Linked DNA regions of Homo sapiens. The protein of the gene in region 2 interacts with the protein of the main gene of each other region in a biochemical or structural test. Each region holds a gene or a part of one and is shown on either strand. Other genes may lie near its edges.

Evidence for each region.
Region 1: of the proteins of CDK6 (region 2) and N4BP1, one has a biochemical effect on the other in vitro, tested with the Homo sapiens proteins (one large-scale study listed by BioGRID and IntAct).

The regions. Positions count from the first base shown.
Region 1 is NC_000016.10:48,551,181-48,554,680, forward strand, and holds part of N4BP1 (NEDD4-binding protein 1), read right to left. Parts: intron 2,490-3,500; coding exon 2,359-2,489; intron 303-2,358; coding exon 206-302; intron 1-205. UniProt on the Homo sapiens protein: Potent suppressor of cytokine production that acts as a regulator of innate immune signaling and inflammation.
Region 2 is NC_000007.14:92,606,998-92,609,573, forward strand, and holds part of CDK6 (cyclin-dependent kinase 6), read right to left. Parts: 3' UTR 1-2,576. UniProt on the Homo sapiens protein: Serine/threonine-protein kinase involved in the control of the cell cycle and differentiation; promotes G1/S transition. Phosphorylates pRB/RB1 and NPM1.

The sequences.
Region 1 (3,500 bases), on a different chromosome or scaffold from region 2:
TTTTACTAAAACACAAAGAGTTTCTTCTGTGGTGTTTCTAAAAACTATGTAGCAAATATCACTGAGCATATCACCTTAATGACCATAAATATTAAACCCACTGCATCAAGCAGGTCCTCTAAAAGTGTGGACCTGTCCAGCAGAGCAGGTGGCTGGCTCCTCACCACCCCACTCCAACCTTAGGAAGGAGAATGGCCTTTCATACCTGTCATCATGAGAAGCAATTCTTTCTCCAAAGACCATCCGGGCAGGAGTTAAAGATAATATTCCGAGCTCCTGGAGCTGGGTTAAGAAGTGCTGTTCTGTTCATGGAATAAGTTGAATATACATTCAGAAAAGGGCTATCTTCCCAAATGTATCAAGAAATGAAAGTACACTCAAATGTTTCACTTGGAGAGCTGTAGAAAACCTTTTTTCTATTGACTCAATTTTACTAACTCACTAGGAATTAAAAAAAAAACAAGCAAGACCCATACTAAGGCAAAAACAACATATGAACTAACTTCAGTTATTTTTTAAACATAAGATTAAACTCATTTGCTTCTCAAGAATAGTAGGCCAGGCACAGTGGCTCACGCCTGTAATCCCAGCACTTTGGGAGGCTGAGGCAGGTGGATTACTTAAGGTCAGGAGTTCAAGACCAGACTGGCCAACATGATGAAACCCTGTCTCTACTAAAAATACAAAATTAGCCAGGTGTGGTGGCGCGTGCCTGTAATCCCAGTTACTCAGGAGGCTGAGGCAGGAGAATCGCTTGAACCCAGGAGGCAGAGGTTGCAGAGAGCTGAGACGGCACTGCTGCACTCCAGCCTGGGTATTTAATGAAGCCTACCATCAAAAACTCTTTCAGAGCTATACTACAAGAAGTAGAGGACAAAGAGAGGGATGATAAGAGACCCTGAGAGAGGGTAGGGGTGAGGCTAGGGCAGATCTAGGGATAGGAGGGGCAAATGGTTCTACCACAAGAAAGATCCCTATGCCAAGAGTCTGTTGAAGCCTCCTCCTACTGGCCTCCTATCTAAATTCTCAAAGGTGTCCATACAAATATTTGCCAGTTTTCATGGGGGTGGGTGATGACAGTGGAGAATGGAGGGTCAAAGCTACATTTTAGAAAACCAGTAATGGGAAAAAGCAGCTAAAAGCTCAGGGCCTGAGATTCCCACACCTGCATTCCCTACAATGGTACTCACCACTGACTTAAGCAATGCAGAGCACATAAGCACTAAGAGACTCCTTCGGCAGGGCGTGGTGGCTCCTGCCTGTAATCCCAGCACTTTGGGAGGGTGAGGTGGGTGGATAACAAGGTCAGGAGTTCGAGACCAGCCTGGTCAATATGATGAAACCCCGTTTCTACTAAAAATACAAAAATTAGCCGGGCGTGGTGGTGCGTGCCTGCAGTCCCAGCTACTCGGGAGGCTGAAGCAGAAGAATCACTTGAACCCAGGAGGCAGAGGTTGCAGTGAGCCGAGATCATGCCGCTGCACTCCAGCCTGAGCGACAGAGCGAGACTCCGTCTCAGAAAAAAAAAAAAAAAAAAAAAAAAAAAAAAAAAAAAAAAGACTCCTTCAGGGATCCAATTGCAAAAATAACAAAATGAGTGTATCTGCTTCATTCCTTATGTACCCTCTGTTAAGATGAATATGCTCTTCAAAATGGGGGAAGTTGGGAATACTTGGGAACTGTGTGGTTTGACCATTTCTGCCCCACTAGTGACTAAACTTCACTTCCTGTTTAATGTGCTGGGCAAGTCCTGTACTGACCCTCCTTCCCCACAATCTACTTTATTTTTCCAGGCCCTCTGATGTGTTAAGTTGCCTGGCACAGCCCCTTCACCTATCTTCCTATCATGACCTATGACACAAACAACCTGAAGTTTCTCTAGAACATTTCATGATTCATAATAAGTTCAAATCTTTCGTGTGTGGCCTGCAAGTCAGCCAGAGTACTTTATGGTTAACGGAAATGATTTATATTAAGCCTTAAATAGACTGTTAAAAAGACGTAACTTGAAGGGGCCAAATTTATGAAGTGACTTCAAAAATACTATCTAAACAGTCAGAAATCCAGCCTAATAAAAAGACATTTTTTAGAAAGTAAAAAGAAAACGTGATATATAATGAACTCTTAATATAACTTCCTGTATAAATAACTATGTTAACTTTCCATCCTACCTCCTAGTATTTGTGATGCTGTGGCACTCTCTTCAATTGATGTTTTGCTAGGTGCAGTAGATTTACAATTTTATTTTTAAAGCCGCTGCCTATGGCACACAGCTCTATTCTAAATAGCATGTGTTGCAATTATAAGCCAACTCATTAAACATTTCACTAGAAATCTGAAAAAATCAGTTTGCCTCACCTGTGACATTAGGATCACGCCTTGTTCTCCACTGAGGGACAAATACAGTGATGTTTCTGTTGCCAAGCTTCCAAAAATATTCAACTGCAATTGCAATTCCACGACAAGAAAAGAACTTTTTCAGACCATGGCTAGAAATTACAAAGTAAAGAAAATAAGTAAAGTTTATTTCTGTTTAAAGCACAGTAAGTTTCACCATGAAAAGTTAACATACACATACAACAAACAGTAAGAACAAAGTTTCCTTTAATATTCTTACATTTTTGGCATTTAGTTGCACAAAGTTAGGATGGAACCCACTGTAGGGGACAGAACTCTTAATAGTGTCTTAGGATTTTTCTCACATTTTGTTAATCTAACTGGGTGTGTTGTTATGATAGAAAGCAGTGAGCTCCATGGTAATACTTGTTCCCTGTGACAGAAGAAAGGGACAAAGATGTGACATGGTCATAACCCCTGCAACCTCCGAAGATGCTGCTGTGTCCTGTCCCAGGAGGGCTCCACTCTTTTTAGGGAATGGCTATATTTACCCAGTTTACAGCTTACGAGAAACACGTTGAGGGCAAGACTCAAATGAAACTAATGGGGGGCCGTGAAAGGCTATTTTAAGAATGCAGAAAGCAGGGAAAAAAGGTAAAAAAAAAAAAAAATTAAAAGAACAGCAACAACAACAACAACAATGAACAGTAGAGAACACAGGTTAGCACACTTTTTCTGTTAAGAGCCACACAGTCTCTGTCATACCACCCAACTCTGAATGTGAAAACAGCCACAGATAACTGTAAGTGAATGTGTGCGGCTATGTTCCACATTTACAAAAACAGGTGGGCGGGCCTGATTTGGCCCATAGTTTACAATCCTTGGTATAGAGGATTAAAAAATGCCCACCCCTCCATCCATAACACATTTCAACGGAAAGGAAGAAAGTACTTAAATTTTACTCTCCAGCAGTTAATTAAACGTGGAGATAAAAAAGTGTTAAAAGTTTAAAATTCTGCAGGTGGTAATTTGTCTACTCATGGGTATTAGAAAGAAAAAAAGACTAAAATCTCAAACTGTGATGCTGTAGTTTATGAGATTAGCATAATCTATGTTCACTGCTTCAATGGTCACTTAGATTCCAGCGACAATACTCCCTGCAT
Region 2 (2,576 bases):
TTATAATAAATTATACAGGCAATCCTTGCTTTTTATTACCACACTGGATTGCTTCTGTACACAGCTAAGTTGCCTGAAGCATGGAAACTTGGACTTCTCCATCTGACACGTTCTGGAAGCCTCAAGGCACAAGCTGACAGTTCTGCTTCTACAGAAAAACTCTCACACTGCTCTCCTCTCAACAGTACTGCCTGTTCCCACTACTCCACATGACACCTACGAGGGCACTACATCACGTGAGGGAAGCTTCTTCATGAGGGCAGACAAGAGGAGGCACCACCCAGGCACTGGTCTCTGCCTGGCATCTATTCCGAGGGCCACCTGGCACAGTTTCTAAATTAAGGCATATCTAAAATGCTTTTCTACCTTTAGTTTTTATTTTTGCTATATTTTTGCACTCTACTATATGCATATTTAATAAAAACAACTACAAAGTCCTTTACTTTAATTCCTTTACATAATGATAAAACACCTAGATACCCAAAATACTACATCTATATATTCAAATCTACTAATCATGTTACAAATGCATGCAGCTTATTTGGGGGCTTAGTCTAATTTTTATTTTCTTAGGTCCATCAATACCATGATAATGAACATTAGATGCAAAATCCTAACACTTTCTGCCTTCAGTTGTACTTTCACAGGACTAGTGTGATTCAGAAATAAATAACATACATGAATAATAATAGAAATAATTTATGCAAATGTAGAACAACTTGAAAAAAAATCCCCCGCCTGTCAGGTGCTGTTCCTGGGGGTAGCTGATGCTATAAATTCCATGTACTAACTAATATATTTACTACAGGTAATAGGAAAACAAATGAATAAAAAGTGAGGAACTATGATATACATGTGTATATTTTTGCAAACACAGGATCAGAATGAAAAGATATATCATGCACTGTGAGGTTTAAGAAATGTATTACTGCTGGGATTTGTTTTATTATTCAGACTTTAAGATCAAACTGAGAGTTGTTGGTGATCACAGAAATATTGCTAGCTGATACATATTATTGCATTTCATAAAACTTAAGATTAGAAACTTTCAAGTAAGGGTACAACGGGTATCTTCAGAACTTTAACCTAAGCACATCAACGGAATTTTTCTAGGGACCACAGAGAGTTAGAAATTAAATAATTGTGTGGCTCTATGTGTGCTGATTAGTGCTACAGTCATAGTTCTTGGCAGTCAATATGTAGTTATATGCCCCCTTTGAGAAAAACCTACATTTGACAATCCAAACTCCTAAAATTGAGAAAGGGTTATTTGTGTGACCAAACAACTCACACGGAAGATTCCTCTCAACATGAAAATCCCCTGCTACATGAGATAATTTGTTTACATACCTTTAATTACCTAACAAAGAAAAAGAGAGAAAAGAAACTGGAAGCTAAAGAATTGAGAGCTTTTGCCAACTGAAGACGAAGCAGAAAATAAACTTTTCAAAACAAAACTTTTCCAGGCATATCTTTCACCATCACATATATAGAATGATGGAAAATAAAAAAATAAAAAAAAATTCCTGCAATTATACATCTTTTCTTTAAAAAAACAAAAACAAAAACAAAAACTGAGCTTAGCGCCTGAGAGATGCGGGGTAGACAGCTTCACACAGGGCAGCTGCTACCGCATCTCTTTTTACCCGAACTTTCGGAGAATTGTGTTGTACTTATTTATGCACAGAAGACACCCGTTTGCTACTAGGGACATTTTTCTTCCTAAGATTTGCAGAACAGATGCCTCTGAGACAGCAGCAGGGCACTCTGACCTCGGAAAGCAGCCCGCGGGGCCGCACATAATTTCAGGCACCGGCAGGTGAGTGGGAGGCGGGGCCCCAGCCCGGCCTCGCCCACTGCCTCTCTCCTGCCAAAGGGGCGGGGCAACGAGGCAGCGCGCCCGGAAGGCTTTCAAGTGGGAATCAAGTTTTGAGCACGAGCAAATGGGGTTCAGACTGGCCACTGTTATAACAAACCCTGGGGTGGAATTCGGCCTTTCGCATAGGGGCTTTAACTGGACTCTAGTTCCTGGGAGCAGAGGGGCGAATGAGGCGGGGGATTTCTCAGCCAGTTTCTGACTGCCCCTAGTGTATGTGGCATTTTGGTTCAGTATGAATTACTGAGACTCATCTGCTTGCCACTCAGGAGGAAAGTTGGGCAGGCACCGTCGAGTGTCTGCCACTCAAAAGGAATAAGCTGCTTTCTGTGGTGCTGTGCTAAGGAAACTGAAAAATACTGCAATATCCTTCCCTACTAAATTTCAAGTGACACTGCTGTGAGAAAGGTGACCTCTAAAATTAACTTAATCATTTGGGGTATAAGAAGTCTTTAAGTAGACTTGTAAATTTAAAAAAAGTATATAAAGTTGCCAAAAAACTTCAAAAGTTAAGTATGTAGACACACTCCTAAGTTGTTATGCTCATATACTTCAGACTTTTTTTTTTTAATTAGAGCTTCTTATGAATTTACATTTGTGATTCCACAAATGTTAAAATTACCTGGTCTTTTGGTATTTTAGGGCTCTGTTTCAATACAGCAATTTTTCAGACAAAAGTTTTGTCTACTGAATTACTGAT